Homo sapiens: one gene and its partners. The protein of the gene in region 4 purifies or fractionates together with the protein of the main gene of each other region. This does not show direct contact. Each region holds a gene or a part of one and is shown on either strand. Other genes may lie near its edges.

Region 1 (7,913 bases), on a different chromosome or scaffold from region 4:
GCTACTGTGGCCTCCAAAGGTACTGCTGGGAGATCTGGGATCAATACTCATCATTCACCACCCCCATACACCATCTTCACATACCTCAAGTTGAGGAAATAGATGCATTTCCCTAGAATGCATCAGCAATCCTCACAACATACTATTAAAATTCAGACTCAGATTTCTGCATATTGTGGAGGTGGAACTGAGGCATTCAAGAGCGCCCTTGCTGAAAGTGTCTGAGCAGTAGCTTAAGGGGTGAGGGCTGCAGGATCAGAAGACCTCCTTTAGGAAGCATGGGTTTAAAATGTTCTAGAAACTCAGGCAAATGCCATTAGAGTTCCCCTTTTAGGCAAACCACCATTCCAAGAAACAACAGTGAAAGTGTTTGTCGTGAGAAGGTTGAAGTGACACTTGCCCACTGTTGGATCTCCATCAGAAACCAAAATGATCAGCGAGACGGAGTTGGGGTCTAACAGTCCCAAGTTATTGGCTTCATTCAAAATGAAGATTGCCCGTAGGAGTGCTTCGTTGATGTTTGTGCCTGTTGAAGTAGCATAATGAAACGTTGGGTATGCGTTCTCGCCACACGCAGAAAATCCCATTCTGGATTCAGACTCATATGTCGGCTGATCACTTATCCATCACTTATTCCATGCCAAAATCATTTCATTGCTTTCTGAGTGACACAAACTGTGCTCAAGCTGGTGGTCCCCCAGTGCAGTGAAATATTCACTTTGAAATAAACTATCCCCTTAGAGATGAACTAGCCCTTTCAAAGCACAGACTGTTAGCTTGTTAAACACCAGATTAAAGTATCCAAATCAGCCTTGCCAAGATACTCTGAAGATAGTAACATTTTATGCTTTATGCAGGCAATAAAGAAGGCCAGTGTCACTGAACCTTTTTCTGAGAGACATTAAAACGGTTCAAAGCTTATGTGGGCTGTATTACAAATTCTACTTTCACTACAAACTTAGCATTCATCCATTACCAATAAATGTATTATTTAAGATAGGCCCTCGAATGCTGGGGAAAGACCACTGTGATGGGAATAATGCTTCTTAAGTGAATCATGATTTGAACCCAGAGGAAGTGTCTCCTTGGGATTTAGCCCAACACACTCACCTCCACTGGGCTGGATTTTCTCAATATACCTCTTGGCATCTGCAACCTGTGTTTTTGTAGCTGAAATTAAATCATTTCTCCAAGTTCGAATGTTCTGGTTGAAATCAATCACAGAGAAATGGTCTTCTGCTCTGAGGTCATCCAATATGGTCTTCATTGCTTCCACAGTCTATTTCAATAGAGAATAAAGACAGGTCCCATTACAGAAAATCTGAGCCTCAGAGGAACTAGGAAGACCAATCATTGATCCTGGTCATCTTTCAAGTTCTTCTCAAGCTAAACTTCTTCCAGAAAACCTCTTGAGCCCACCTCAGTCAATGCAGACCTGCCCCTTATTTATTCTGGGCATGTACTGTTGGCTTTTTGATAATTTTACTATCTATTTTGCTATGCACAACCAGTTTGACTAGTCTTTATGTTAAGGATCACAAACTTCGAGTGCCACCTTTATGATGCCTGAAAATAAAATACATTTCTCAAGTCCATCTACTCACCCAGTCTCTTAAACTATTTCCTCATCTTTCTCTTTAAACCACCACCATCACCCTCTTTCTCTAGCTTACGTGTGATGATTTTGATTCCAACTCCACTGAGAAACTGCAGCAGACAGAAGAACATTCCCACAGACTCCCACTACCATAAAATCCCAACCATCAATATTTGTACCCATACATTTTTCTTTCCTACCTGATAATAAAGAACAACTAGCAGTATTTCTACCTAATGCAAACCCATCTATTCATGAACTATTTCATTCCCTCTCTTTGACTAAAGATCATGGCTCCAGCAATTGTCCTTTGCCTCTTCAATTTCCCTATTCTATTGGTACATTTCCATCAACAAAAACATGTTATTTCTCACCCTTCTACAAACCTCATGTGCATCCACTTTCTTCATTTCTCAGCTTTCTTCTGCAATAAAATTCCTTGAGGAATTGTCTAAACACACTGTCTCCAAATCTTCTCTTCCTATTCTCTCATAAGCCCAATCCTTTCGGGTTTTCATCCCTGTCACTCTACTGAAACTGCCCTTGTCAAGGTCACCAATGATGCTAATGTCACTAAATCCAAAGGTCCATCTTCATTTCTCATGCACCGGCAAGTGCTCTCATCTCCCTCCTGAACACAAATTCCTCAATTGTCTTCCAGGGCCTCATTCTCTCTTGATTTTTCTCCCCCACTTACTAATTGTTTTTATTAGTCTCTATCACCAATTATCCTCTTCTTCCCAAATTCCCAATATTGGAATGCTCTGTTGTCTGATCTTGGCTCCCTTGTCCATCTACTCCTCGGCATTCTCACCTAGTCCCAATGCTGACAGTACCTTCTATATGCTGGGGAGTCCTAACTGTGTGTCTCCACATCTCACTTTTGAACACCACGCTTCCATGGCCAACGTGGGTACTTAATAGAAATCTCAGACTTTGCATCCAAAACCAAACTGGGACATTCCCTGCAATGTCTGATTACATTTCTGTCTTTGTCAACTCATGGATGGCCACTTCATCCTTCTAGTCACTCAGGCTAAGTCCTGGGGCATCTTTCACTTCTCTTTTCTTCCCTTGCCTCACAGCTAGCCCTTCAGGATATACTGTTTACTCTACCTTCAAAACAGATTCCAGAATCCAGCTCTGATCATGACTGCACAGGTGTTCCATGAGCCACCTTGCCTCTCACTTCTCAGATCTCATCTCCCACTGCCCCTCTCTACTGGCATCTCTCTCTGTTCTTTGCACACTTTCGACTTAGAACTGTTGCATGAGCTGTTCATTGCATTTAATTCCCTTAGATATCTGCACAACTCTCCCTTCACCTTCTCAGGGTCTCCTCAGAGGTCTTCTCCAGGAAACCACCTATTTAGATGACAAGCCTATTTAAAATTGCATACCCCTGCAATTGCCACTCTTGGTTTTTAACATATGCTTCTTTTATTTTTTAAAAAAACTTTTATCAAAATGCTGCCATTGAACGTACTTGTACATTTGTACTTGCATGTGTATTGTTTATTCTCTGTCCCCTATCCCTCAGATGTAAGTTTCATAAGCACACAGAGGGTAGGCATCCGTTTTTTTTCTGTTTTTTGTTTGGTTTCTGTTTTTATGCTTTGGGTCTGTTTTGCTCATAGATGAACTAAGTGTATGACACATAGTAGGTGCTTCGTAAATATTTGTTAAATGAATGAGTGATGGAAGGAAGGAAGCAGTGAATAAACTGTTGTATTAGAGCAATGTTTCTCAACCAGAGGCAATTATTCCCCCCAGCGGACATTTGGCAATGTCTGACGTTATATTTGATTGTTATGATGCAGGGGAGGTTGTGCTACCAAAATTTAGCAAATAGACCATAGACCATGCTGCTAAGTATCCTGCAATGCACCAGACAGCCCTCCTACAACAAGGAATGACCCCATCCAAAATATCAATAGTCCCACTGCTGAGAAACCCTGCCTGGGAGTACAGACCCAGGCAGGCAGGGTCTGTGAAAGACAGGGTCTTCTTTTTCCTCTTCTTCGTCTTCGTCTTCTTCCTCTTCTTTTTTTTTTTTTTTTTGAGATGGAGTTTCGCTCTTGTTGCCCAGGCTGGAGTGCAATGGCGCGATCTCTGCTCGCTGCAACTCCCGCTTCCTGGGTTCAAGCAATTCTCCTGCCTCAGCCTCCCGAGTAGCTGGGATTACAGGCATGCACCACCACGCCTGGCTAATTTTGTATTTTTAGTAGAGACAGGGTTTCTCCATGTTGGTCAGGCTGGTCTCAAACTCCCAACCTCAGGTGATCCACCTGCCTTGGCCTCCCAAAGTACTGGGATTACAGGCGTGAGCCACTGTGCCTGGCTGACAGGGACTTCTTTTAGGTTCCTTACAGATCTTAGGGTAGTAGTGAACTCTTGGGTGGTCAAAAATAGTTGCCCTATGACTGGTTAGTTGGTTGTTCAACTTGGTTGAATGGATGGATGGATTGATGGGTAAGTTAAATCATTTCCTTGTTTGGTCTTTAGTATTGCATCTGTACATCTCACTTATCACTAAGTAAGCCTATATTGAGCTCTGAGCTGGAAAACATAAGATGGATAGCTGCTCTCAAGCAATTACCATATAATTAGAAATAATATGTATATATTGAATCAATAGTCATATGTGGACAATGACAAGATATTATAATAAAACATGTGGAAGAGCAAAAAGAATGTGACTGATCCTTGAAAGAAGAGGTTATATAGAGATTCTGTTTTTCAAAGAGGTGAGTTTTGAGACAGTTTTTCAAGGAAATATTGGATAGAGAGTGGAAAAGAGAAAGAGAAGGAAGAGGAAACAGGAAAGAGGAAGAAGAGAAGGAAGGGAATTTTACACTAGAGGAATGATTAGAAGACGGAGGTGTATGTCCTGTGAAATGCAATAATAGCAAAATTTTAGGAAGAGTTGACACCGGCAGTCTGTAACCACAGTCCCTGAGCTTCAGCCCTAAGCAGGGAGGAGGGATAGAATGATTGCATTTTTAGGAGGGGATCAAAGAAGATAGGGAATCCCCCCAACCACTGCAAACAAGGGGGTACTTACTTGTTTCATTTTAACTCCCCACATGGAGCCACTCACATCGATGACAAAGAGGATGTTTTTGGGAATTGGGTCCAGGTTGTCAGGAGCAAAGAAGTGGACAAAATATCCATTAAACACCTGAAAAATAGAAGGTATTTGTGAGTCAAATCATGATTCGTGTTTAGAAGGTAGGAAGATGGGGACCTGGGGACTCAGAGAAGAGAGGGGTCTACAGGGAGGAGGAGGCGGAGCTTGATGTGCATTTGCCTCCACATTTTCCTGCCTGCTCCCCCACCTCCTCTCCTCTGAGGGTCAAGACCTTCCTAGCAGAACATTCCGCTCCACTCCACTCCACGCTGCTTCACTCCACACCGCTCCACTCCACTTGACTCCTCTCCACACCATGCCACTCCACTCCACGTCACACCACTCCACGCCACGCCACTCCACGCCATGCCAGGGCACTCCGCTCCACACCACACCACGCCACTCCACTCTACTCCACTCCACGCCACGCTGCTCCACTCCACTCCATGCCACTTCACTTCACCCCACTCCACTGCACGCCACTCCACTCCACCCGACTTCACGCCACTCCACTCCACGCCACTTCACTCCACTCCACTCCACTCCACATCACTCAGTCTTTACAGAGAGCCCCTGTTCCAGGCGCCCTGCTAACCAGCGGTGAATCAGGCAGAGCACCTCCCGTCAGGAGGCTCCCAGCCAGCAGAGGATAAGGGTAAGTGGAGGCAATGTGCAGCGCGGTGTGTTCAACACCATGATTAGGAAGTAAAGGGCTCGGCAAGAGCCCCGTGTGCATCTAACGCGCACCCAGGGGACGGTTCTCTAGGAAGCAGCATCTCCACTGGGACCTAAGGATGAGCTCAGACTCAGAAGCTCTCTTGAGAGCTGGGCCAGGTTGAGATAGTGGGGAATGGGGAAGAGAGTTCCAGACAGCGCAGCCCCAGAGATGAGAAAACATGGCATATTTGGGGCTCCATATGTGGTTCAGCAAGATGGGGCCGTAGAATCCAAGAATTCAGGGAACTAGTTGGAGAATCAGCAAGACAGATCACGAAGGACGTGTATGGGCCACTTTAGAAAATTTGGATTTTTCTTGAAGTTAATGAGAGGCTGCCCCAGCTGGACTCCTGACCATCCTCTTTGTCTTCTGCTGCAGGCTTGATGACTGGCTCACCTAATTCTCTTTCCTCTGCCCTTTGGCTGCCTCTTTCCAGGAAACTACAGCATCCAGGTACAGGGTGTGTGCTCCGCTTGCTGTCCCTAGAGAGACTCTTGGAGTTTGCGTACGTTCTAAGAGTCCTCACCTTAGTACAAAGAAAGGAAGACACACGTCTGGGACATGACTGAAGGGGAAAGGAAACTTTTCAAGAAACTTCATGATAAACCTTGGCCTTGAAATTCACCGCTGGCTCTTGATCTTTCTAGGCTGTGGATGCGCCTTCCTCCTCACCCCGTAATCTCTGTGCTTTCTTTGATTGTCTAATTGCAAAGGGCCTTGGGAGCCTATTTAAAATTCCTGTTCTGTAATTATTCCTTTGTTCTTCACATGAGGCCCAGGAATGCCCTCCTGGGACAAGAGCATGAGACCCTATTCATTTAGTTTTTAATACATAAAAGATAATGCTTAGCGGTATATTCAAAGAATATGATTTTAGTCCCTTCTCTGCAGCTAGAAACACTTGCCCTGGCAGCTAGAAACCACCCATAGGCCTGGGAGTTTGTTCAAAAAGGAGCAGCTCTTTGGCACGAGCTTGGCAGTAGAACCAGAGCCGGTGTGCACTCACCTCCAGTTCACCAGCCTTCTCTTCTCTTTTCACGTCATACAGCACCACCAGTTCCCCATCTACCGCAGTCTCCCGGCAGTTAGGGCATATTCTCTGCTGTGCTACCGTGGGCTTGAAGGAGACGTGCGCCTAGAAAGAACGGTGACATCAGAGCCTCTGCCTCTAGCCCCTTCCCAGTGCTTGGCGCTGCCCCTTCTCCAGCACACAGGGAAGAGGAGCTGCCCAATGGACGTTCTGAATCCCCGCGATATCGGTGGACCCATTACTGATGGGAAGGACATGCCAGGGCTTTTGCAGGGAGCATCTCTAGCCTGCCATGCTGTTTGCAAGGTTTCAGACCTTTTTAGAAGAAAGCCGAAGAATTTCCTTCATCCCCTGTAGAAGGGCTGACTATGTGCTTTGGAAAGAGTTTGTGAAATGTTTTAATGCTCTTAGAGGAGTTTCTCCTTACAGGAGTCATAGTTGGTTATCGCTGGTCATTGAGGCAGAGAGCTGAACATGTCTTGCTATGGTTAATGAATGAAAATCTGCCATATAGGATGTGAAAGCTGTCCTTTAGCTACTGGTTAAGCAGGTGACTGACGGGGAAATGAGACTCAAAAAGGGACAATCTCTGGTCAAAATGGAAGGAAAGCACTGGGAGTGTTGTTCTGTGTATCCTGGGGAGGCCCTAGGCTCTACTTGGGGATCCCCATTTCTTCAACAGTGTCCTCAACACCAGCCTGCTTTTCTCTTCTCCAGAGCACAGAAGGAGAACAGAACCCACAATCCAGAGGCCCTGTGAATGCCTGGCAACACACAGGGCTCAGGGTACCTTCTGTTGTCCTTTAGAAATGACCGGAACACCATCGAAATGGCCTTCAAATGTGTCGGGAACATGAAGAAATCTCAGTCCCTGTGGTTCGATAACCCACACATCTACCTAGAGATGCAAGAGAAAATTACCCAAAGCATTAAAAGTCTTTAAAGTCTTTTTAAGCAAGAAGTAAAATTACAAATAAGTCCTCTGATGCTTTTCTCCTCCGCAGGTTTCCCGGGCACGACTCCACGATCTCTCCTGCAGGATCTGCAAGTTCCTGCGATGGGATTCATCTCACCACGGAGGCTTAACCCCCTTCTGTCGACTCAGAGCTCTCCTTCTGCTGCCTCACTCCCCCAGGAGTCGACTCCCTTCCTCATTCTATTCGAGTCTTTTTATTTATAAGAGCATTTGCATTGTTAGGGAAAAAAAGAATTCCTTCTTCTTTTTCCCTCATTGTTAAATAGCACTGCATCTACTCTGTAGACCTGTCAAAAGTAGACCATTTTCCCCAAATCTTGGGTTGTTTTATTTCTTCTCTGTCTTCTTGCTTTGAACAGACCTCATCTAGGGAAATCCCCTTTGGTGATTCTTGACCAAACCACAGTCATAGCTGCCATTTTTTTCTTTTTTAAATTTAATTCTATGATTTGTTTGTTTATA
Region 2 (7,664 bases), on a different chromosome or scaffold from region 4:
CTTACAAGAACATCTCAGGGACTGGACTGAGGAAAATGATGAAGTAATTGTTAGAGGCAGTGGAGAGTAACGATAAGGACCAGGTCTGTGAGCCAGAAGCGACTCTTGCATGTGTTTGGTTTGGCTTGGCTCAGGGTTGAACATTCTTTGAATTTGTTGCCAACATTTCAAAATCAGGAATTTTCACATAGAAATCCAGATTTCTGGCATCTTTTGGAAAATTGGAAAAATTCATATTCCCATATAACAGTGCACCAGGCCTCACTGCATCCACTCACATCGGCTCCAATGACCCCTGGCGGTGGGGCGGTCACCTGAGTTTGTAATCTATGATGCCATTGTCAGGAGTGGGCACTTTGGAGTCAGGTGGGTGGGCTTTGCAGCCTGCCTTTTTGCAAGCTGCCCCCTTTCTATAAGGTTCCTGGACCCGGCCCTGGCAGCTGTCATGACAGCCACTGAGGCCATTCTGTGTCCTGGCATTCACCCCATGAGGCGTGTCCATGACCACCCCCATTTTACAGATGAGAAAGTGGACACTCAAGGAGGGGAGGGACTTGCCTCATCTCCCACAGCTACCAGATGGCAGGGCCAGGACTCGAACCCAGGTCCCACCTCAAAGCCCATTCTCTTAACCATTGCCATCAGTCAGGGTTCTCCAGGAACACAGAACCAACAGATTTATTTGAAGGACTTGGCCCGTGTCTGCGGGGGGCTGGCAGGCCTGAAATCTGTTGCTGGCAGCTCTGGGGAGTGAATTCTGCAGCCTTGAGGCAGAATTCCTTCTCTGGGAAACCGGTTTTTGCTCTTACGGCCTTCCACTGATGTAGGAGGCCCACCCATATTTTCAGGGTAATCTCCTTCACTCAAAGCCAACTGATTGTGGCATTAACCACATCTACAAAGCACCTGCATTCACAGCAGCGCCTAGATTAGTGTTTGACTCAGCCTAGCCAAGCCAACACGTACAACTACCTACCTCGGCATCTCACCGGGGCTTCTCCAGTGTTCACACTAAGATGTACTCAGGCCACTCCATGGGCGGCCGTGGACCCTGGCTGGGAGGCTCCCTTTGAAGAACCGAGGGTAGAGGTGTGACTTTGGGGTTCCTGTTATCTGCTGTGATCCAGGAGGTGTGGCCCTGCCTCCCCATCCTGAGTACCCCTAGGGACAGGCAGGTGGGGTGGGTGTGGGTGCCTGGTGGGTGGCTAGCAGCCTTGTTTGCCTCTGCAGTGTCCTCCAGCAGCCTGGTGCTGTACCAGAGCTCAGACTCCAGCAATGGCCAGAGCCACCTGCTGCCATCCAACCACAGCGTCATCGAGACCTTCATCTCCACCCAGATGGCCTCTTCCTCCCAGTAACCACGGCACCTGGGCCCTGGGGCCTGTACTGCCTGCTTGGGGGGTGATGAGGGCAGCAGCCAGCCCTGCCTGGAGGACCTGAGCCTGCCGAGCAACCGTGGCCCTTCCTGGACAGCTGTGCCTCGCTCCCCACTCTGCTCTGATGCATCAGAAAGGGAGGGCTCTGAGGCGCCCCAACCCGTGGAGGCTGCTCGGGGTGCACAGGAGGGGGTCGTGGAGAGCTAGGAGCAAAGCCTGTTCATGGCAGATGTAGGAGGGACTGTCGCTGCTTCGTGGGATACAGTCTTCTTACTTGGAACTGAAGGGGGCGGCCTATGACTTGGGCACCCCCAGCCTGGGCCTATGGAGAGCCCTGGGACCGCTACACCACTCTGGCAGCCACACTTCTCAGGACACAGGCCTGTGTAGCTGTGACCTGCTGAGCTCTGAGAGGCCCTGGATCAGCGTGGCCTTGTTCTGTCACCAATGTACCCACCGGGCCACTCCTTCCTGCCCCAACTCCTTCCAGCTAGTGACCCACATGCCATTTGTACTGACCCCATCACCTACTCACACAGGCATTTCCTGGGTGGCTACTCTGTGCCAGAGCCTGGGGCTCTAACGCCTGAGCCCAGGGAGGCCGAAGCTAACAGGGAAGGCAGGCAGGGCTCTCCTGGCTTCCCATCCCCAGCGATTCCCTCTCCCAGGCCCCATGACCTCCAGCTTTCCTGTATTTGTTCCCAAGAGCATCATGCCTCTGAGGCCAGCCTGGCCTCCTGCCTCTACTGGGAAGGCTACTTCGGGGCTGGGAAGTCGTCCTTACTCCTGTGGGAGCCTCGCAACCCGTGCCAAGTCCAGGTCCTGGTGGGGCAGCTCCTCTGTCTCGAGCGCCCTGCAGACCCTGCCCTTGTTTGGGGCAGGAGTAGCTGAGCTCACAAGGCAGCAAGGCCCGAGCAGCTGAGCAGGGCCGGGGAACTGGCCAAGCTGAGGTGCCCAGGAGAAGAAAGAGGTGACCCCAGGGCACAGGAGCTACCTGTGTGGACAGGACTAACACTCAGAAGCCTGGGGGCCTGGCTGGCTGAGGGCAGTTCGCAGCCACCCTGAGGAGTCTGAGGTCCTGAGCACTGCCAGGAGGGACAAAGGAGCCTGTGAACCCAGGACAAGCATGGTCCCACATCCCTGGGCCTGCTGCTGAGAACCTGGCCTTCAGTGTACCGCGTCTACCCTGGGATTCAGGAAAAGGCCTGGGGTGACCCGGCACCCCCTGCAGCTTGTAGCCAGCCGGGGCGAGTGGCACGTTTATTTAACTTTTAGTAAAGTCAAGGAGAAATGCGGTGGAAACTTCTTGCTTGTCCACAAATCATTCAGATGGGGTTTGGGCAGGTAGCGGGAGGCTGGGGCAGGCCAGAGGCCTGCGAAGAGGAGACAGGCTCCAGCACCCACGCTCTCACACCCCACATCTCTGCTTTTCTTGCTCTGCTGAGACTCTAATGACAAAGCCAGATTTCATCTTAACCTCAAGCTTCTACTTTTTAAAAAAATTTTGTTTTGGAGACAGGGTCTCACTGTCACCCAGGCTGGACTGCAGTGGCATTATACAGCTCACTGCAGCCTTGAACTCCTGGACTAAAGGGATCCTCCCACCTCAGCCTCACAAGCAGCCTCACAGGCGCTCACTACCATGCCCAACTAATTTTTGTATTCTTTTTTTTATAGAGACGAGGTTTCACCATGTTGCCTAGGCTGGTCTGGAACTCGGCTCAAGTGATCCACCTGCCTCGGCCTCCCAAAGTGCTGGGATTACAGGTGTGAGCCACCATCCCTGGCCATGAGCTTCTACTTCTTTTCTTTTTCTTTTTCTTTTTTTTTTTTTGAGATAGGGTCTTGCTCCATTGCTTAGGCTAGAGTGCAGTGGCGCAATCTCGGCTCACTGCAACCTGCACCTCCTGGGTTCAAGCGATTCTCCCACCTCAGCCTCCTGAGTAGCTGGGATTACGGGCGTGTGTCAACATGCTCAGCTAATTTTTGTATTTTTAGTAGAGATGGGGTCTCGCCATGTTGGCCAGGCTGGTCTCAAACTCCTGGCCTCAATTGATCCACCTCCTTGGCCTCTCAAAATGCTTGGATTACAGGCATGAGCCACTGCACCCGGCCACAAGCTTCTACTTCTTGCAGAATGCCTTTGTCCCATGAAACCTAGTCCACGAGTGCTATGACACTTCCTGAAGTCTTGGGTGGGGTGAACGCACAAATCCTGGGGGTGTAGAGAGGAGGAGGATGTTTACTTAAAATGTCTTAAGGTTCAGCATTGACAGAGAGGCAATATCCAAATCACTCTAAGTTTTGTTTTGGGTCCTCTGACAATTGAGTTTCCATAATCTGGTCGGCTCAGAGACACCATCATGTGTGGTATATTCACAAATGCAGACAAAGAAAATTCTAGAAAGCCAGGGGTGAAAAAGCTCTCCTTTCTCAGACGATTCTGTGAAGTCTATGTGGGCTAAGGAGAGAAGAACAAAAGTTTCTCTGGGCCTTGGCCTCTTGGGGATCCCTTCTCTCATTTTCTAAAAACTGTTTCTCACACCAGGCTAAGGAGGTGGTGGGGAAGGTCTCCCTTCCCCTGCCCACCTCAGACAGTTCTAGGGAGATGGAGGTTTCACCACTTGGCCACTAGTCTCAAATAACTGGAAGGTTCCTTTTTTCCTGAGGTCATGAAATGTTCTGGAACCACAGCGCCCCCGCCAGCCCTCCGTGGGAGCACAGAGGGGCAGGCCTTGATTGGTCTTCTCACCCTACAGCCACTTTTTTGGCCCAACTCTCGAGCAAGCCTTCATCACCATCAGGGTCTCATGGGCAGTCTGGGTTTGCCAGCCCAGTCCTTGAACTTGGAGAGGGAGGTGGGGCTTGGAAATGCCTTGTCCCCAGGGTGGGGGGGACACCTTGTCCTTGGAGCTGGCTGAGCCCTGTGCCCATGGCTGGGTTCAGTTTGCAGGTATAGCTGTAGCACTCTTTGCTGGTGGGAATGGAGAGGTCTCGCTGGCCTTCTTTGCCTTTTTCTTCTTTTTGGTCCCAAGCGACACCTGGTCCCCGTTGAGCTCACCTGACTTCTGCTTCTGGACTGTGGCCATGCTGGTGGGGGTGGTGGCAGCGACAGCCGAGTCGACACTGGCCACCTTCTTGGCTTTCTTTTTCAACTTCCTTTTCTTCTTTGCCTCCTTCTCCACTGTTCCAGGGCTGTGGATGGCTGACTCCTGTAGGATGTCGGACGCCGACACAGCTGCCTCCCGGCACCGCCGCCACTCCTCGTCACTGTCCTCACTGCTGCAACGAGAGGGTACCCTGGGTTAGCTGGAGTCAGGACACAGCCCCAGAGCTGCCTCTCGCTGTCCTCCCTTGGTCCAGGTCACCAGAAGGTGGCCGCAGAGAGAGGCAGGTAGTGAGTTCAGGCTTGGGAGTGAGGCCAACCTGGCTTCCAATACTGGCTTCTGGGCGTAGCAGCCTTGTGACCTCCTTAAGTGACTTAACCTCTCTGACTGTATCATCTCTAAAACGGGGATCTTAACAGAGTCCAGGCCTCCCAGGGATGTCCCAGGAGGCAACTATGATCAAGTGAGGTGTCTGGCCCAAGACAGGTGCTCAAAAGCAGTAAACATCCAAAGCTGCCGCCAAGAGGGCTTTCCCTCCCGCTGAGCTCATGATTTCTCCAGCTGCCTGACAGGGCCACTGCCTTGGCCTGGTCCTGACTGGAGTCTGCTTGGCTATTCCAGGGAACCCACCAAGACAGAAGAGGAGAAAAAAGGAGGGGACGTGAGGAGAGGTGTGAGTTCTCACCTGGAGCTGGAGGGCTGTCGCTTTCGGCGGGGTTGGGGAGACTCTTCCTTCTCACGGCCTCCAGGGACAGATGTGAAGAAAAGGCGGAAACCTAAGATTCAATGGGGCAGAGTCAAACAAAAACAAAACAAAACAAAAAGAAACATAAAAAAATAAAAAATAAAGAAACAAAAAAGAAAAAAATTTTAAAAAGGAAAACGAAAGAAAGAAAAGATAAAGAGAAACAAAAAAAAAATTTTAAGAAGACACAAAATAAAAAAATTTAAAAAAGAAACAATAACAAAAAAACCCAACCAAGCAAACAAACAAAAAAAACAAAGGAGCAGAGTCAGCACCCCCAGATGCCAGCCCCTCCTCCCAGGTGCCAGGTGCTGAAGCTGCCCCGCCTCTGCCCTCAGGAGCTCCTGGTCCAGAGGCAAAGACCCAGGAATCAGTCGTCTAACTACAAAGTGATTCTGCATCTGCCAAGGGTCATGCTGATGCCTGATGGAGCCAGTGGAGGGCGCGCTGGAGCAGGAGCCAGCAGCCACATCAGCTCAGCAAGCCCTCAGAGGCTTCTGGAAGTCAGCACTTGAGCTCCTGACCTAAGGCAGCCTTCAAAGTGGCAAATGTGTTGGTACAGGACAGACGCAGATGGGCGAGGCTGTGGAGGGCAGCAGTAAAGTGCTCCTGCTCAGGGTGACACAGACGAGGCCGCCTCAGGCAAATGACTTCGTTTCTCAGGGCCTCAGTCTCCTTGTCTGTACATGGGGTTCAATCATAATACCTGCCTCACCACAGGGGCTGAGCAGATGAAAGAATGGTGAGGTGGCCCATGCCTGTAACCCCAGTACTTTGGTAGTCTGAGGCGGGAGGATAGCTTGAGGCCAGGAGTTTAAGACCAGCCTGGGCAACATGACAGAACCCTGTCTCTAAAAAAAAATACAAAAATTAGCCAGGTGTGGTGGTGCACGCCTGTAGTCCCAGAACTTTGGAAGGCTAAGGTGGGCAGATGGCTTGAGGCCAGGAGTTCAAGACCAGCCTGGGCAACATAGCGAGATCCTGTCTCTAAAAAACATAAATAATTAGCCAGGGGTGGTGGTGTGTGTCTGTGGTCCCAGCTACTCAGGAAGCTGAGGTGGGAGGACTGCTTGGGTCCGGGAGGTTGAGGCTGCATTGAGCTATAATTGCTCCACTGCACTCCAGCCTAGGTGGCAGAGAGAGTTCCTATCTCAAAAAAAGAAAAAAAAAAAAGAATATACCAAAACTGTTTCGCCCACCTCCAGACACACATTAGGTGCTTAATAAATGATAGCTTCTATTAAGTATAACCACTCACCATCATCCTCCAAAGCGACTTTCTGTACCTTAGCTTTTGCTGGCTCCTTTGCTGCTTCTGAGATGGTAATGAAGCTACAGGGAGACGAGACGGTTGATTTAAGATGAGATTTTTGGATAACGACAAAAACAAAATTCTTTTTCAAGTGGAGGGGATGGGGTATGTGATTGTAAATGCAAAAGCGAAAGCGTGCTGGCCTAGTAAGAGGGCTGATGGTCTGGTTATAACATGCTGACCAGCCTCTGCCACGCGAACTGCAGTGCTTCATTTCTTTAAAGCCCACTTTATTCCAGTAAGTGTTGAAGAAGTTTTAAAGACATAGTAAAACAAGATGAGGCCAGGCATGGTGGCTCACGCCTGTAATCCTAGCACTTTGGGAGGCCAAGGCAGGCAGATCATGAGGCCAGGAGATCGAGACCATTCTGGCTAACACGGTGAAACCCCATCTCTACTAAAAATACAAAAAATTAGCCGGGCATGGTGGCGGGCGCCTGTAGTCCCAGCTACTCGGGAGGCTGAGGCAGGAGAATGGCGTGAACCTGGGAGGCGGAGCTTGCAGTGAACTGAGACTGCGCCACTGCACTCCAGCCTGGGTGACAGAGCAAGACTCCATCTCCAAAAAAAGAAAAGAATTTAACAAAATGAATGCAATTTCAAATAGGACAAAGAGATATAAGGGCAAGAGGAACAGAAAGACCTAGAAGTGTAGTCAGGAAGTCCTATACACTTGTTAGAGAGAGGGCATACATTTTGCTCTGAGCTTCCTAGCAGCAAGCATGAAAAGGGAAATATGACCAATCTAGAAAACTGGTTCAGAGGACAGCTTCTGGAGCAGGGCAGACCTGTTTTTAAATTTTTTTTTTTAATTAAAAGAAATTGGAGATAATTGTAGACATGCAGTAGCAACAAATAATGCAGATGTTCCATAGACCCTCCATCCATTTTCTCGCAATGGTAACATTGTGCCTCGCTATAGTACAACATCACAACTAGGAAATGCAAATTGATCCAATTCATGGACCTCATTCAGACTTCAGAGACCTGGGTTTTGAATCCCGGTTTTGTCACTTATTAGCTATGTCCCTTAAGCAAATGACTTTATCTCTCTGAGTCTCTGTTATCCACCTGTGCAGTGGGAACGATGAAGGTCCCTACCTCTTAAGGTTGTCACAAGGATT
Region 3 (7,913 bases), on a different chromosome or scaffold from region 4:
GTCACTGCAGCCATGACCTTCTTGACTCAAGCGATTATCCCACCTCAGCCTTCTGAATAGCTGGGACTACAGGCATGTACCACCATGCCCAGCTAATTTTTAAATTTTTTGTAGAGATGGGGTTTTGCATGTTGCCCAGGCTAGTCTTGAACTGCTGGGCTCAAATGATCACCTGTTCTTTCTTTTTTGTGTGTGTTTTTTTGAGACAGGGTCTCACTCTGTTGCCCAGGCTGGAGTGCAGTGGCACAATCTCAGCTCACTGCAGCCTTGACATCTGGGCTCAAGTGATCCTCCCACCTCAGCCTCCCGAGTAGCTGGGACCACAGGCATGCACAACCATGCCTGGCTAATTTTTGTATTTTTTGTAGAGCCAGGGTTTCGCCATGTTTCCCAGGCTGGTTTCGAACTCCTGAGCTCGAGTGAATTGCTTACCTTAGCTTCCTAAAGTGCTGGGACCACAGACATGAGCCACTGCGCCCAGCCACTTGTTCTTAAAATAATATATAATAGCTTTAAAACTGTAAGATGAATATGGAAATATAGGAACTTTAAAGCTTAGTCCATTTTTTTTTTTTTTTTGAGACAGAGTCTCTCTTTTGTTGCCCAGGCTAGAGTGCAGTGGCGTGATCTTGGCTCACTGCAACCTCTGCCGCCCAGGTTCAAGCTTCTCCTGCCAGTAGCTGGGATTACGGGCGCCCGCCACCACGGCCAGCTAATTTTCGTACTTTTAGTAGAGACGGGGTTTCGCCATGTTGGGCAGGGTGGTCTCAAACTCCTGACCTCAGGTGATCTGCCCACCTTGGCCTCCCAAAGTGCTGGGATTACAGGTGTGAGCCACCACGCCTGGCATGTCCAATGTTTTTACATAGGTCAAAACCCACATATATATAGTTAGTATGAGTGGTTGCAGATTCACAAATTCTTCTCATACAGTGTATGTTGTTACAAATAAGTTATGAAAAATTTAGGCCAGGTGAGGTGACTCACGCTTGTAATCCCAGCACTTTGAGAGGCTGAGGTGGGTGGATCACCTGAGGTCAGGAGCTTGAGACCAGCCTGGCCAACATGGTGAAACCCTGTATCTACTAAAAATAGAAAAGAATTAGTGGGGCTTAGTGGTGCGAGCCTATAGTCCCAGCTTCTCGGGTGTCTGAGGCAGGAGAATCGCTTGAACACAGGAGTCAGAGGGTGCAGTGAGCCGAGATTGTGCCATTGCACTCCAGCCTGGGCAACAGAGCGACACTCTGTCTCAAAAAAAAAAAAAATTATGAAAAATTTATTTGAGGAATCAAATAAAATGTTAATCTCATTGTGTGCTTTATGAAGTTTGAATGCTGTTTTGTCATCTGTTCTGCTTTTAATTAGTATAACCTGAATTTGGTGACATGCTGGTTTTTTTAAATTTTTTATTTAGGCAGCTAATACTTGATGGTCAATGGGATGAAGTTCTTCAGTTCATTCAGCCTCTAGAATGTATGGAAAAATTTGACAAAAAAAGGTAAGATTTTATCTAAAGTTTTTAGTGTCTCATCATTGGTAGAAGCTTAGCAAAACAATGAACAAAAATTTTCATTTTCATTTTTCTTTCTCCACTGGCCTTGAACAGAGAGTAAACAAATTGATCTCTCTCTGTCACCCAAGCTGGAGTGTGGTGGCATGATCACAGCTCACTGCAGCCTTGGTCTCCTGGGCTCAAGCAATCCTCCCACTTCAGCCTCTCAAGTAGCTGGGACTATACAGGCGTGTACCATCAGCCTAGCTAATTTTGTATTTTTTTTAGAGTTAGGGTTTCACCATGTTGCCCAGGCTTCCCTTGTGTTCATTTGGATTATTTTAAGTTGATTTAATGTTCACTGACCCTTTCTTTTGCTATTAGCAATCTGTTGATAAATTGTGAATTTTTAAAAACAGGTTCTTGTTCTACCACCAGGCTGATGTGCAGTGGCATGTATGTGGCACTGCAGCTTCAAATTCAACAGTGAATTTTTCATTTTGAATATTGTGCTTTTCATTTTCAAATTCGTATAATTTTTTTGTAAGATTTTTCCATCTGTTCATTCATTATGATTATATTTTTCTTTAGGTCCTTCAACATACTGAGAGTAGCTGCTTGTTTGCTAGTGTAGTCCTTGTTTGGTAATTTGGACTTGTGCTTGCTTATATCAGGCTCAGTTTCTAATGATTGCCTTTTCTCCTAACTGGGAGTCACTTTTTGTTTTTTTTTTTAACTATATCTAATTATTTTGTAAATGTAATCTGCACATTTCAGCTTCACTCTTGAGGCTCTGAATTCTGTTCTCTTCCTACATAAAAAGTTTGATTTTCATACAGGCAGTTATTTAACTTAGGTAGCCTCAAAATGCAAACTCTTTCTCCCCTCTTGTGGATACCAGAGATTTGTCCCGAAATCTCTGCTCAGTTCTTTGGCCTTTCATCTGTTTTCTCCAGGCTCCTTGGAGTCTCCCTTGCATCTTCACAGTTTAGGGGATAGCCAGGGATATGGGTACCTAAGTTTATACAGTAGATTTTGGTATGTTTCCTACTGTGACGTCGTCCTTTTTTTGGATCTTCCTCTCATTTTTTAGCTGCTCTGGCAGTACCAAACTTTTTTTTTGAGACAGGGTCTCATTCTGTTGCCCAGGCTGGAGTGCAGTGGTGTGAACACAGCTCACTGTAGCCTTACCTCCTGGGCTCAAGTGATTTGCCTGCTTCAGACTCCTGTGTGGCTGGGACTGCAGGCGTGTGCCACCCCGCTAGGCTAATTTTTAAATTTTTTGTAGAGACCAGGTCTGACTTTGTTGCCCAGGCTGGTCTCGAACTTCTGGGCTCAAATAATCCTCTTGCCTTGGCCTCTCAAAGTGCTAGGATTACAAGTATGAGCCACTTTGTTCAGTCAGTACCAGACTTTTCAAGCTACAGCCTTCTGTTTGAGTTCTAGCTCACACTGTGTGAACTGGGGAGTGCCCTCAGCTGGAAAGCCTTATGCTGTTGAATATAACCCCTTAAATTTCTGGGTTTTTTTTTTTTTTTTTTGAGATGGAGTCTCACTCTGTCACCCAGGCTGGAATGCAGTGGTGCGATCTTGGCTCACTGCAACCTCTGCTTCCCAGGTTCAAGCGATTCTCCTGCCTCAGCCTCCCGAGCAGCTGGGACTACAGGCATGCACCACTGTGCCTAGCTAATTTTTGTATTGTTAGAAATGGGGTTTCACCATGTTGGTCAGGCTGGTCTCGAGCTCCTGACCTCGTGATCCACCCACCTTGGCCTCCCAAAGTGCTGGGATTACAGGCTTGAGCCAACGCACCTGGCAAATTTCTCTTTTTTTAAGGATTGACTTCCCTCTAGTTGTGCCAGCTTTTCAAATGCATTCAAAATAGTCATTTTTTGAGGCCAGGCGTGGTGGCTCACGCCTGTAATCCCAGCACTTTGGGAGGCCGAGGCAGGCGGATCACTTGAGGTCAGGAGTTGGAGACCAGCCTGGCCAACATGGCGAAATCCTGTCTCTACTGAAAATACAAAAAAAAATTGGCTGGATGTGGTGGCACATGCCTGTAATCCCAGCTACTTGGGAGGCTGAGGTAGGAGAATCACTTGAAACTGGGAGGCAGGGGTTGCAGTGAGCCGAGATCGTGCCACTGCACTCCAGCCTGGGCGACAGAGCAGGACTCTGTCTCAATCAGTCAATCAATAAACAAACAAATAAATAAAATCACCTTTTTTTGGTATTTTATGTAAGATTTATTGTTGTTATATGCAGAAATGTTAGCCAGATATAAGTTACTCTATCACTATCAGAAGTTGAACCTGTTGTTATTTTTTGATTTGCTATTCAGACCATGCTGCTTGATATTTCTTTGCGTTTGTACATTCTTTACTTACCTGGAATATTAATCCCTTCACCATCTCCTGCCTTTACCTGGTACACTTCTGATTGTCTTCTGAGAGTCAGTTGTTATGTCTTTTTTTTGTTAACTTTCCACCTCTTTTGTACAATTGGTTTCATACTTTTTTGAGGCCTTGCTGAACTCTGAATATTTCATATAATTTATTAGGTGACCCTCTTTTTGAAGGCAGGGATTTTGTTTTATTGGACACAATTTGCTACTACAACAGTGGCTGAAAGAATGACTGAAGGTTCATTATTTTTTTCTTTCCAGACTTGGAAACACTTTTTCTATAAATTGCTTCAGGCAATAAAGCTTTTGATTCTTAGACAGGTTAGGTAGACTCTTTGCTATCCCTTCCCCTCTGAAAAACTCTTGTTAAAAAGCTTTAAATTGGGACCAGGTGCAGTGGCTCATACTTGTAATCCAAGCACTTTGGGAGGCTGAGGCAGGAGAATTGCTTGAAGCCAGGAATTTGAGATCAGTCTGAGCAACAAAGTGAGACCCGGTCTCTACAAAACAATTTTAAAAATTGGCCGGGTGCTGTGGCACACAGTTGTAGTCCTAGCTGCTTGGGAGGCTGAGGCAGGAGGATTGCTTGGGCCAAAGTTTGAGGCTGTAGTGAGCTGTGATCATGCCACTGTACTCCAGCTTGGGTGACAGAGCAGAAGACTCTGTCTCTAAAAAAAAAAAAGAAAAGGAAAAAAGCTTTAAGTCTCTAGTTATTTTGTAGTGTTTTAGAAATGTTCATTTTCTCCTACCCTTTCAGCCCCATTTTTTATTAGACTTTTCTCATATTTAAAAAGAAAATATTTGATTTAATCTTTCTACAATGTATATGTATTTAAAAATGTAACATACCCCATAAATATATACTATTATTTGTTAAAATTTTTTTAATAAAAAACAGGATGTAAGGTAAACAAAACATTTTGGATATAAGACTTGATTTAATATTAGGTAACATTTGATATCTTCCATAAAAATTGGATTGTTGTTTACAATTAATATTGGAAGTATAAATTCATTCTCTGAGTGTTAAATTGTGATTACTTGTGACTGAACTTCAGTTATGGCTTCAATGTGATAAGAAGCCTAGTAAATTATTTGAATAATTTTCCTAAAGCAAAAGTACTTACATAGTAACTTCTAAGTATATTTGACATCAGACATTGGAAAAATTAATGCTTCATTTTTTTCCCACAGGTTTCGTTATATTATCCTGAAGCAGAAGTTTTTAGAAGCTTTATGTGTTAACAACGCGATGTCAGCAGAAGATGAGCCCCAGCATGTAAGATTTTTATTCCTGAAGGTTTGCGCCCTAGTCTTGTTTTCAGTCATAAGTATTTTAGTCACTAAAACGAAGGATTAGCATCACAAGTTTTCAGAGTTTTTATGAGCTGGGATGGGGCAAGATCTGGTGTTTTCCAGGTGTAGTATTTTCATTCTGTAGCGCTTCTAAACTTGTTCCATGGTTTAAGCCAAGATATATAAATAGCTGGCTAGTTGAAGAGTGTGTGCATCTCTCTTGTTTAAGGTAAGTCAGCAATAGATAAAGTTTGACTTGATGACTCTTCATCATTTCTTCTTTTTTTTAAATCCCGGAAGTGGGTTGGTTATATTTATGTCCTTTTTCTCTGTCTTTTCTGTATTGTCTTTGATCCAGAGATAGTTTTTTTTTTGCTGAAATGTTTGTCTTCATGACTATTTAAATTTAATGAAATTAAATTCATTTTGATTAGTAAAGTGACTTTTAAAGATTCAGTGTAATACTAAAACCGAGAAAACTTGTATTAAGTTCTGGTAATTGTTAACTGAAGTAAAGTGTCTTAGTCCATTTGACCTGCTATAACAAAATATCATAAACTAGGGGGCTAGTAAACAATAGAAGTTTATTTCTTACAGTTCTGGTAGCTGGAAAGTCCAAGATCAAGGTACCAGCAGATTCATTGCCTGGTGAGGGCCTGTGCTCTGGTTCATGGATGGTGCCTTCTAGCTGTGTTTTCAGCTGGTTAAAGAGGCTAGCTAGCTCTCTGGGGTCTCTTATATGGGCACTAATCTAATTCACGAGGGCTGAGCATTTATGACCTAGTCACCTCCCAAAGGCCCTACTTTTCCAATACCATTACCTTGCGGGGTTAGGATTTCAACATAGGAATTTTAGGGAGGCACAAACATTCAGACTGAGGCAAAAACCAAAGGATTTTACAGTGGGGACTTTCAGATACAGATATATTTGCCAGATAATGATGTTCAAAAGTGAAAAGAACACTGGAACATGAGTTAGGAGACCTATTTTTTATTCCGTCTTTGCCACTAATCAACTGAATTACCTTGGTAAATGTGTACCCTGACTTTTCCCATATGTAAGATATGGTGGCTAGACTAGGTGAGTGCTGAAGTTCCTTACATCATTAAAAGCTTATGATTCAAAGACAATATTCACTATACAAATTATTATAATTTGTCTCTCAGCTAAGCTTCCATTTTGGTCTGTCTGGATTGTTTTGTAGTAAGTCAACTTTAGGCATTCCCTTTCTGTTTTTTTTTTTTTTTTTTGAGATGGAGTCTCACACTGTCACCCAGGCTGGAGTGCAGTGGTGCGATCTCAGCTCACTGTAACCTCTGCCTCCTGGGTTCAAGCAATTCTCCTGCCTCAGCCTCTCAAGTAGCTGGGATTACAGGTGCCCGCCACTGTGCCTGGCTAATTTTTTGTATTTTTATTAGAGACGGGGTTTCACTGTGTTGGCCAGGCTGGTCTCGAACCTCATGATCTGCCCACCTTGGCCTACCAAAGTGCTGGGATTACAGGTGTGAGCCACTGTGCTCGGCTCCCTTTTCTTGACTTTCTATCTCCACACAATTTTGCTCTAAGGTAAGTTTGGACTAACAGAGTGGCTCTTTTGCCTTTTGGGTAAGCTGGAATAATAGCAAAGTTTATAAACAATTGAACATTGGCATGCTTCAATTTTCATTTCTAGAAAAAAAATTCTTACCGTTAAAAAATTATATATTTGAGAGCTGGGCACAGTGTGGCACACCTGTGGTCCCAGCTACTTTAGAGGCTGGGGATCACTTGAGCCCAAGAGTTCAAGGCTGTAGTGCACTATATTTGTGTGTATGAATAACCCCTGCACTCCAGCGTGGGCAGCAGAGTGAGATCCTGTCTTATGCCTGAATTATAATAGAACAGTGTTTTTATAGATAAAAGTTTAATGTACTAATAAACCAAGTTTATTATTTTTATTTTAGTTGTGAAAACATTATGTTCCTATCTTGAAAGCTGTTGCATATCCTACAAATTATATGAGTATTCTGTGGCAATATAATTTATTCTTTGTACTCTTGTCGTTTTCATATTTCATAGCATGTTTTTTATAGTGATTATTTGATCATTTATATTTTTCTTACAGCTGGAATTTACCATGCAAGAAGCTGTGCAATGTTTACATGCTCTAGAAGAATACTGTCCTTCTAAAGATGACTATAGTAAGCTCTGTTTGCTTTTGACTTTGCCTCGTCTGACCAATCATGCCGAGTTTAAGGACTGGAATCCCAGCACCGCACGAGTTCACTGTTTTGAAGAGGCTTGTGTCATGGTTGCAGAATTCATCCCTGCTGATAGGAAGCTAAGTGAAGCTGGTTTTAAGGCTAGTAACAATCGTTTATTTCAGCTTGTAATGAAAGGCCTGCTTTATGAATGCTGTGTAGAATTTTGTCAGAGTAAAGCAACTGGAGAAGAAATTACAGAAAGCGAAGTGCTTCTTGGCATCGACCTCTTATGTGGTAATGGTTGTGATGATTTGGATCTGAGTTTACTGTCATGGCTTCAGAATCTTCCATCTTCTGTCTTCTCTTGTGCTTTTGAACAGAAAATGCTTAATATTCATGTTGACAAACTTCTGAAACCTACAAAAGCTGCATATGCTGATCTTTTGACTCCTCTTATCAGCAAACTCTCTCCCTATCCATCATCCCCAATGAGAAGACCTCAATCAGCTGATGCCTATATGACCCGCTCTCTGAATC
Region 4 (7,913 bases):
AGTGCTGGGATTACAGGTATGACCCACTGCGCCTGGCCTAATTTTTGTATTTTTAGTAGAGACAGGGTTTCACCATGTTGGCCAGGCTAGTTTTGAACTCCTGACCTCAGGTGATCCACCCACCTCGGCCTCCCAAAGTGCTGGGATTACAGGTGTGAGCCCCCACACCCGGCCTTATTTTTAAGTTTAAAAACAATTTTTTTTGAGACAGGGCCTGGCTCCATTGCCCAGGCTGGAGTGCAGTGGTGTGGTGATGGCTCAATGCAGCGTCAACCTTACGGGCTCAAGTGATTCTTGTACCTGGGCCTCCCAAGTAGCTGGGACCACAGGTGTGAGCCACCATGCCTGCATTTTTTCTTTTTCTTTTGAGGCAGGGGTCTCACTCTGTCACCCAGGCTTGAGTGCAGTGGCGCAGTCTCAGCTCACTGCAGCCTTATCTCCTAGGCTCAAGAGATCCTCCCAACTCAGCCTCCCAAGTAGATGGGAACACAGGCAGGCACCACCATGCCCAGCTAGTTTTTTGTATTTTTAATTGAGACAGGATTTCGCCCTGTTGCTCAGATTGGTCTCCTGGGCTCAAGTGATCCACTCGCTTCAGCCTCCCAAAGTGCTGGGATTGCAAGTGTGAGCCACCGTGCCTAATTTTTTTTTTTTTTTGAGAATTGCTTGAACCCGGGAGGTGGAGGTTGCAGTGAGCCGAGATCGCACCACTGCACTCCAGCTTAGGCAACAGAGTGAGACCCTGTTTCAAAAAAAAAAAAAAAAAAAGAATCCTGTGGAGCACCATTATAAAGATGTTTGTGGCCGGGTATTGTGGCTCACGCCTGTAATCCCAACACTTTGGGAGGCCGAGGTGGGCAGATCACTTGAGGTCAGGAGTTCAAGACCACCCTGGCCAACATGGTGAAACCCCGTCTCTACTAAAAATACAAAACAATTATCTGTGCATGGTGGCGGGAACCTGTAATCCCAGCTACTCAGGAGGCTGAGGCAGGAGAATCACTTGAACCCAGGAGGCGGAGGCTGCAGTGAGCCAAGATCACGTCACTTGCACTCCAGCCTGGGAGACACAGCGGGACTCTGTCTCAAAAAATAAATAAGTAGGCCGGGCGCGGTGGCTCACGCCTGTAATCCCAGCACTTTGGGAGGCTGAGGCAGGCAGATCACGAGGTCAGGAGATCGAGACCATCCTGGCTAACACGGTGAAACCCCATCTCTACTAAAAATACAAAAAAATTAGCCAGGCGTGGTGGTGGGCACCTATAGTCCCAGCTACTCGGGAGGCTGAGGCAGGAGAATGGTGTGAACTCAGGAGGTGGAGCTTGCAGTGAGCCAAGATCGTGCCACAAAGCACTCCAGCCTGGGTGACAAAGTGAGACTCCGTCTCAAAAAATAAATACATAAATAAATAAATAAACAAACACATAAGTAAATAAAAGTAAAGACGGTCAAGACCCTTTTCAGGATGGGAAAACTGAGGCCAGATAGGCTAAGTTAGTGGCCCAATCACACACACGGCATGTAAGGAAGAGGTGGGGGCAGGAAACAGATGCAATGTGGGGTTGAAGGCAGGACAGAGCAGCAGAAAGATAAGGAGGGAAGCTGCTGGCTGGGTGTGGCATGGCAGGGCCTGCTCACCAGAGAGGCTCTTGGCGCAGTTCTTGTCCCTGCGGAGGTCGTGATCCTGGTCCCAAGTGGAGAAGGGTACGGAGAGGCCGCTGGGTGGGACGGTGGTGGCGCCCAGCTGGCCGGCCACGGGTGCAGTGAGCTGCAGGCTATAGGCCGTGTCCTCGCCACCCAGGTGCACGGAGAACTGCAGCAACTCGGCGTTGCCATCCCAGTCCCGCAGCTGCACGGCCAGGCGGCTGTTGCGGTCCCCCGTGATGCTATGCACCTTCTCCAGACCCAGCCAGAACTCGCCTGGAGTGGGAGAGGCCACTCCATGAGGCAGGGCCACTTCTGAGGGTCCCTCTTCCTCCCCTGCCTCTGTCCCCACTAGAAACACCTACCGTGGGGATCCCCAAACCCCGCCTTGTAGGCTTCCCAGGGCCGGTTGAAGTCCACTGAGCCATCGTGGCGCCTCTGAATTACTGTCCAGCCTCCATCTGCCCAGAAAGGTACAAGGTCACCAGGAAGTCCCTCTTCACAGACGACCCCACTCCCTCATCTGGCTGCCAAGCACCAAACCCCCTCCAAACCCAGGAAGACAGCAGCTCCCTCACTCATCCCTGGAGGACTCGAGGAGGGTGGGTCAGAGGGAGGAATATTATGGGCTGGCCTTGGGAAGATCTTTGTCCCAAGAACCCAGCAGGGACTGAGTGTGGGAGGGAGTAGGCAGTGGAAATCTGCAAAGCCTCTCTGGGCCAGCTGAACTGGGTAAAACCCCGTGTTGTAACCTCTTGTAATGGAAAGGACTTCTCAGTGGAAAAAAAAGCTTTCTTTTTTTTTTTTTTTTTTTTTAGAGATGGAGTCTCACTCTGTTGCCCAGGCTGGATCGCAGTGCCGCAATCTCAGCTCACTGCAACCTCTGCCTTCGGGGCTCAAGCGATTCTTGTGCTTCAGCCCCACAAGCAGCTGGAATCACAGGCACGCCCGGCTAATGTTTATGTTGGTAGAGATAGGGTTTCACCATGTTGGCCAGGCTGGTCTTGAACTTCTGACCTCAAGTGATTTGCCCGCCTCAGCCTCCCAAAGTGCTGGCATTTCAGGTGTAAGCCACCGTGCTCAGCCTTTGTTTTTTTTTAGAAACGAGGTTTTGTTGTGTTGCCCAGGTTGGAGTGCGGTGGCTATTCACAGGTGTGATCACGGCTCACGGCAGCCTTTAACTCCTGGGCTGAAGTGACCCTCCTGCCTTGGCCTCCCGAGTAGCTGGGACTACAGGCATGTGCCACCATGCCCAGCAAGGGCTGAATTTTATTTTATTTTATTTTATTTTCTCTTTTTTATTTTTTTGATGGGGGGACGGAGTCTCGCTCTGTCGCCCAGGCTGGAGTGCGGTGGCGTCATCTCAGCTCACTGCAACCTCTGCCTCCCAGGTTCAAGAGATTCTCCTGCCTCAGCCACCTGAGTAGCTGGGATTACAGGTGCACACCACCATGCCCGGCTAATTTTTGTATTTTTAGTAGAGACGGGGTTTCACCATGTTGGTCAGGCTGGTCTCGAACTCCTGACCTCGTGATCTGTCTGCCTCAACCTCCCAAAGTGCTGGGATTACAGGTGTGAGCCACTGCACTTGGCCTTTTTTTTTACTTTTACAAAATTTTTTGTAAAGATGAGCTCTCACTATGTTGTCCAGGCTGGTCTCGAACTTCTGGGCTCAAGTGATCCTCATGATAGGCCTCCCAAAGTGTCGGGATTACAGATATGAGCCACTACACCCAGACAAGGGCTGCATTTTAAAGAAAAGAGGCCAGGAGCAGTGGCTAATGCCTATAATCCCAGCATTTTGGGAGGCCAAAGTCGGCAAATCATTTGAGGTCAGGAGTTTGAGACCAGCCAGACCAACATGGTGAAACCCAGTCTCTACTAAAAATACAAAAATTAGCTGGGTGTGGTTGCTCGCACCTGTAGTCTCAGCTACTGGGGAGGCTGACGCTGGAGAATTGCTTGAACCCGGGAGGCGGAGGTTTCAGTGAGCTGAGATCGTGGCATTGCACTCCAGCTCCAAGAGCAAAACTCCATCTCAAAAAAAAAAAAAAAAAAAAAGACCAGCTTGGGCAACATAGCAAGACCCTGCCTTTAATTTTTTTGTTTTGTTTTGTTTTCAATTTAAAGAAAGACAACAGGGCCTATGGGGAGAGGGGCCCCTGGTGGACTAACACACCCTACCTGAGGTCATCTTGCAGTTCACCAAAAATGGCGGAGACCCCTGAGGCTGGATTTCAAATAGTCCACTCTGCCTCTCCCCAACCTGGAACAGCTCCTGGCAATCCCTGGGCAGCCCTGAAGGGAGATAAAGTGGAGACTTGAAACAGGAGGGCAGCCCCTGGGGGGGGTCTCAGGAGCCAGGCATATCTGGGGGCTTAACAGTGGATGACCAGGGAAGTAAAAGGCAAATCTTATCTCATGACCACCTCTCTGCCATCTGCCTAACCTCTTCCATGGCTCCCTATGTCCTTCCTCAGCATGGTCCACAAGGCACCTGGAGGACCAGCCCCCGTGCCCATCCTCCTCCTGCCATGCTGTACCCACACCCTCTCTGGCACACAGGCTTTCTTCCCACCCTTGTACCACACACCGTCCTGCCACAGGGACTTTGCACATGCTGTTCCCCCTGCCTGGGACTCTCTTTTTTTGTTTTGTTTTTTGATACGGAGTCTCGCTCTGTCGCCAGGCTGGAGTGCAGTGGCGCAATCTTGGCTCACTGCAACCTCCGCCTCCCAGGTTCAAGCAATTCTGCCGCAGCCTCCGGAGCAGCTGGGACTACAGGCATGTGCCACCACGCCCGACTAGTTTTTGCATTATTTGTAGAGACGGGGGTTTCACCATGTTGGCCAGACTGGTCTCGATCTCCTGACCTCGTGATCCGCCAGCCTTGGCCTCCCAAAGTGCTGGGATTACAGGTGTGAACCACTGCGCCCGGCGGGACTCTCTTTCCTCACTTCTCTCTCTGGGTCCCAGCTTCTGGAAGGACACCCTGCCTTGCCTCACCCCCAGACCAGGCCAGAACACCCCAAATGGGAATTGAGCAAGGACTTCCCACTCCTGGACACTGAGGTCATCTAATGGTCTCTCCTCTGACTCAATGGAGGCTCCATGAGGCTGGGGACAAGGAGCAGCTCTGCCCACAGCCTGGCACCAGCATCCACGCAGGCCCCAGCGCATAGCAGCTGCTCAATAAAGACTTGAGGAATGGGCCGGGCGCAGTGGTTCATGCCTGTAATCCAGCACTTTGGGAGGCGGGCGGATCGGTCAGGAGTTTGAGACCAGCCTGGTCAACATGGCCAAACCCCATCTCTAGTAAAACATACAAAGATTAGCTGGGTGTGATGGTGGACGCCAGTAATCCCAGCTCCTTAGGAGGCAGAGGCAGGAGAATCACTTGAACCCGGGAGGCAGAGGTTGCAGTCAGCTGAGGTTGAACCATTGCACTCCAACCTGGGTGACAGAGTGAGACTCTGTCTCAAAAAAAAAAAAGACTTGATAAATGAATAAAAATTAGCTGGGCGTGGTGGCGGTAGGCGCCTATAATCCCATCTACTTGAGAGGCTGAGGCAGGAGAATCACTTGAACCCAGTGGGAGGCAGAGGTTGCAGTGAGCTGAGATTGCGCCACTGCACTCCAGCCTGGACAACAGAGCGAGACTCCGTCTCAAAAAGCAAACAAAACAGTCTTGACAAATGAATGAATGAATGAATGAATGAGGCAGCAGGTCCAGAACGGGAAGAACTGTGCTGAGCAGGAGCATCTCAGAGGCTCTGCCTGGGGTCCCAGCTCCTAGAGGGAGAGGAGGCAGGGTTGAGGAAAGAAAGAGGGAGGGAGGAGGGGAGGATGGCGTTGAGCACGTCTGGAGGCTCAGACGCTCCAGACTGGGAGGAACCGCCCCCAGCCCAGCCGGAAAAGTAGGGGAAAGGTCGAAATGAGTCTGCACGGTGGGGGTGGGGGCGGGCCCAGAGTGACCAGGAAGACGCTTTCCGGCCCCTCAGGCATCTCCCCTTTCCCCTACTTTCCTCCCATCCAGTAAGGATGGGCACGCGGCCAAACCACCAGTGTGGCTTCCATGAATGCCAGCTGTTCGCCTTCCCAGCTCTGAACTTTCTCCTACTTGGCGGGCCTGAGCCAAGAGTCTGGGAGTCCCGAACCCACAGAACCCCTGCCCCCTTCCACCGCATTTCCCAGCCAGGACTTGTGCCTTCCCCCGTCACCCTCCAGAAGCCCCTCATCCTGGGATGGTGGCTTTGGGAGGGTGGACAGGACCCTGACCACGCTGAGATGCTAGCCTGGCGGGGTTGGGGGCGGGCAGCACGGAGGTGGGAAGGAGCGGGAGCTTGGGGAGGAGAGAACCCTCAGGTCTACAGTGCTGGAAGCCTGCCACTGACCCTAGGGTGTGAGAGGGGGATCCAAACTTTCACCCAGTTGGCTGTGGACAGCCACAGATGCAGGGAAGGATGAGGACCACAGAGAAACCGTGTGGGGCCGTGAACTTAGAGAACCGCGAGTCTGCATCGGACACACGTGGACATGCTGTGGTTCGAGATGAACGGAGATTTGGGAATAAAGCACCTACAACTTGTGGTGGCAGCAAAAGCCCACTTTCTGCGGTGGGGAGGGGGCCGGCGGGGGCGGGGAGGGAGGAGGAGAACAAGAGAGGAAGGAGGAAGAGGGGTCAGGGACCTGGAGCATTGGATTTGTAAGATACAAGAGTGTTTCTGGTCTGGGAGCTGGGGGTTCCCAGCCCTAATTCCCACATACCCCAAGACATTGTGGAGGGCCCAAATCTACAAACACTACTACCTGGCACCCCCTCCTCCATGACACCCTCCCCTAGAAGGTTCTAACCTTCAGGATGGCACCCCGAACCCCATTTCTACCTTCTCCAGCACCCCTGCAGCTCAAGTCCCTCAAGACCTCTTTCTCCACCTCTGTTCCAATCAGTGATCAGCAGGGCTTCAGGGACAGCCCACTGGCTTGCAGAGGAGAAGGGTTGGGTGGCCTGGCTGGGCCAGGTCAGGGCTGAGGAAGGAGGTGCTCCCATCAGCTTTGACCCAGAGACTGGTGAGCCCTCAGGGACTCCAGGCCAGGACATCTTCTCCTTAAGGTGGACCTGACAAGGAGAGGACCAGCAATGGCAAGTGGCGGGGTAGGGGTGGCCACCGGAGAGCATCGAGGGGCAGACACTCACGGTGCAGGCGGCTGACATTGTGAGCCGGGTCAACTGGCTGGGCCATCTCGGGCAGCCTCTTTCTTCGGGCAGGCTTGGCCACCTCATGGTCTAGGTGCTTGTGGTCCAGGAGGCCAAACTAGGATGGGACGGGAGGAGGGTGTCAGGTCCTGCCTGGCCCCACGTCCCCAGCCACACGTCCAGTTCTCACCACCTCCCTCTCAACCTGGGGTCCAGCTATCAGAGGGACCTTTTCTCCCTTGATCCTAGGGTTACCTGGCTTTGCAGATGCTGAATTCGCAGGTGCTGCTTCTCCAGGTGCCGCTGCTGCTGGGCCACCTTGTGGAAGAGTTGCTGGATCCTGCTGTTCTGAGCCTTGAGTTGTGTCTGGGGAGGGGTGAAAACCTTGGTGAGGACCCAGCTTGCCTACCCCAACCTCTTAATTCATCCACTCATCCATCCTTCCAAATCTCCATCCGCTGAGGCCAGGCAAGGGAGTCTTTCTTTTTTCTTTTTTTTCCCAATGACGGGGTCTCGTTCTCTCGCCCAGGCTGGAGTGCAGTGGTGCTGTCACAGCTCACTGCAGCCTCCAACTCCTGGGGTCAGGCGATCCTCCTGTTTTCAGCCTCCTGTGTAGCTGGGACTACAGTCATGCAGCTCTATGCCTGGCTTATTTTTTATTTTTTCAGACAGAGTCTCGCTCTGTCACCCAGGTTGGAGTGCAGTGGCGCAATCTTGGCTCACTGCAACCTCTGCCTCCCAGACTCAAGTGATTCTTGTGTCTCAGCCTCCCAAGTAGCTGCCACCACACCTGGCTAATTTTTGTATTTGTATTTTATTTTATTTATTATTATTATTATTTTGAGATGGAGTCGAGCTCTGTCGCCCAGGCTGGAGTGCAATGGCATGATCCCGGCTCACTGCAACCTCCGCCTCCCGGGTTCAAGAGGTTCTCCTGCCTCAGCCTCCCCAGTAGCTGGGATTACAGGCGCCCACCACCACACCCAGCTAATTTTTGTATTTTTAGTAGAGACGGGGTTTCACTGTGTTGGTCAGGCTGGTCTTGAACTCCTGACCTCAGGTGATCCACTGG

What was found.
Region 1: the proteins of ANGPTL4 (region 4) and ITIH2 purify together in Homo sapiens (affinity purification with mass spectrometry; one large-scale study listed by BioGRID and IntAct). This does not show direct contact.
Region 2: the proteins of ANGPTL4 (region 4) and C12orf43 purify together in Homo sapiens (affinity purification with mass spectrometry; one large-scale study listed by BioGRID and IntAct). This does not show direct contact.
Region 3: the proteins of ANGPTL4 (region 4) and WDR47 purify together in Homo sapiens (affinity purification with mass spectrometry; 2 studies listed by BioGRID and IntAct, with this or other methods). This does not show direct contact.

What each region holds. Positions count from the first base shown.
Region 1 is NC_000010.11:7,720,316-7,728,228, reverse strand, and holds part of ITIH2 (inter-alpha-trypsin inhibitor heavy chain H2 precursor), read right to left. Parts: intron 7,374-7,913; coding exon 7,266-7,373; intron 6,581-7,265; coding exon 6,452-6,580; intron 4,779-6,451; coding exon 4,662-4,778; intron 1,280-4,661; coding exon 1,111-1,279; intron 527-1,110; coding exon 401-526; intron 1-400. UniProt on the Homo sapiens protein: May act as a carrier of hyaluronan in serum or as a binding protein between hyaluronan and other matrix protein, including those on cell surfaces in tissues to regulate the localization, synthesis and degradation of hyaluronan which are essential to cells undergoing biological processes.
Region 2 is NC_000012.12:120,999,835-121,007,498, forward strand, and holds the end of C12orf43 (protein CUSTOS), read right to left. Parts: intron 6,561-7,664; coding exon 6,487-6,560; intron 5,260-6,486; coding exon 5,169-5,259; intron 4,659-5,168; coding exon of another isoform or gene 4,656-4,658; coding exon 4,319-4,655; 3' UTR 1,359-4,318; coding exon of another isoform or gene 1,231-1,358; 3' UTR 652-1,230; downstream 1-651. Other genes in the region: HNF1A (hepatocyte nuclear factor 1-alpha), read left to right, coding at 1,231-1,358. UniProt on the Homo sapiens protein: Plays a role in the regulation of Wnt signaling pathway during early development.
Region 3 is NC_000001.11:109,011,103-109,019,015, reverse strand, and holds part of WDR47 (WD repeat-containing protein 47), read left to right. Parts: intron 1-1,414; coding exon 1,415-1,498; intron 1,499-5,088; exon of another isoform or gene 5,089-5,090; coding exon 5,091-5,175; coding exon of another isoform or gene 5,176-5,196; intron 5,197-7,297; coding exon 7,298-7,913.
Region 4 is NC_000019.10:8,365,248-8,373,160, reverse strand, and holds part of ANGPTL4 (angiopoietin-related protein 4 isoform a precursor), read right to left. Parts: intron 7,208-7,913; coding exon 7,097-7,207; intron 6,960-7,096; coding exon 6,842-6,959; intron 3,943-6,841; coding exon 3,829-3,942; intron 2,106-3,828; coding exon 2,010-2,105; intron 1,921-2,009; coding exon 1,639-1,920; intron 1-1,638. UniProt on the Homo sapiens protein: Mediates inactivation of the lipoprotein lipase LPL, and thereby plays a role in the regulation of triglyceride clearance from the blood serum and in lipid metabolism. May also play a role in regulating glucose homeostasis and insulin sensitivity.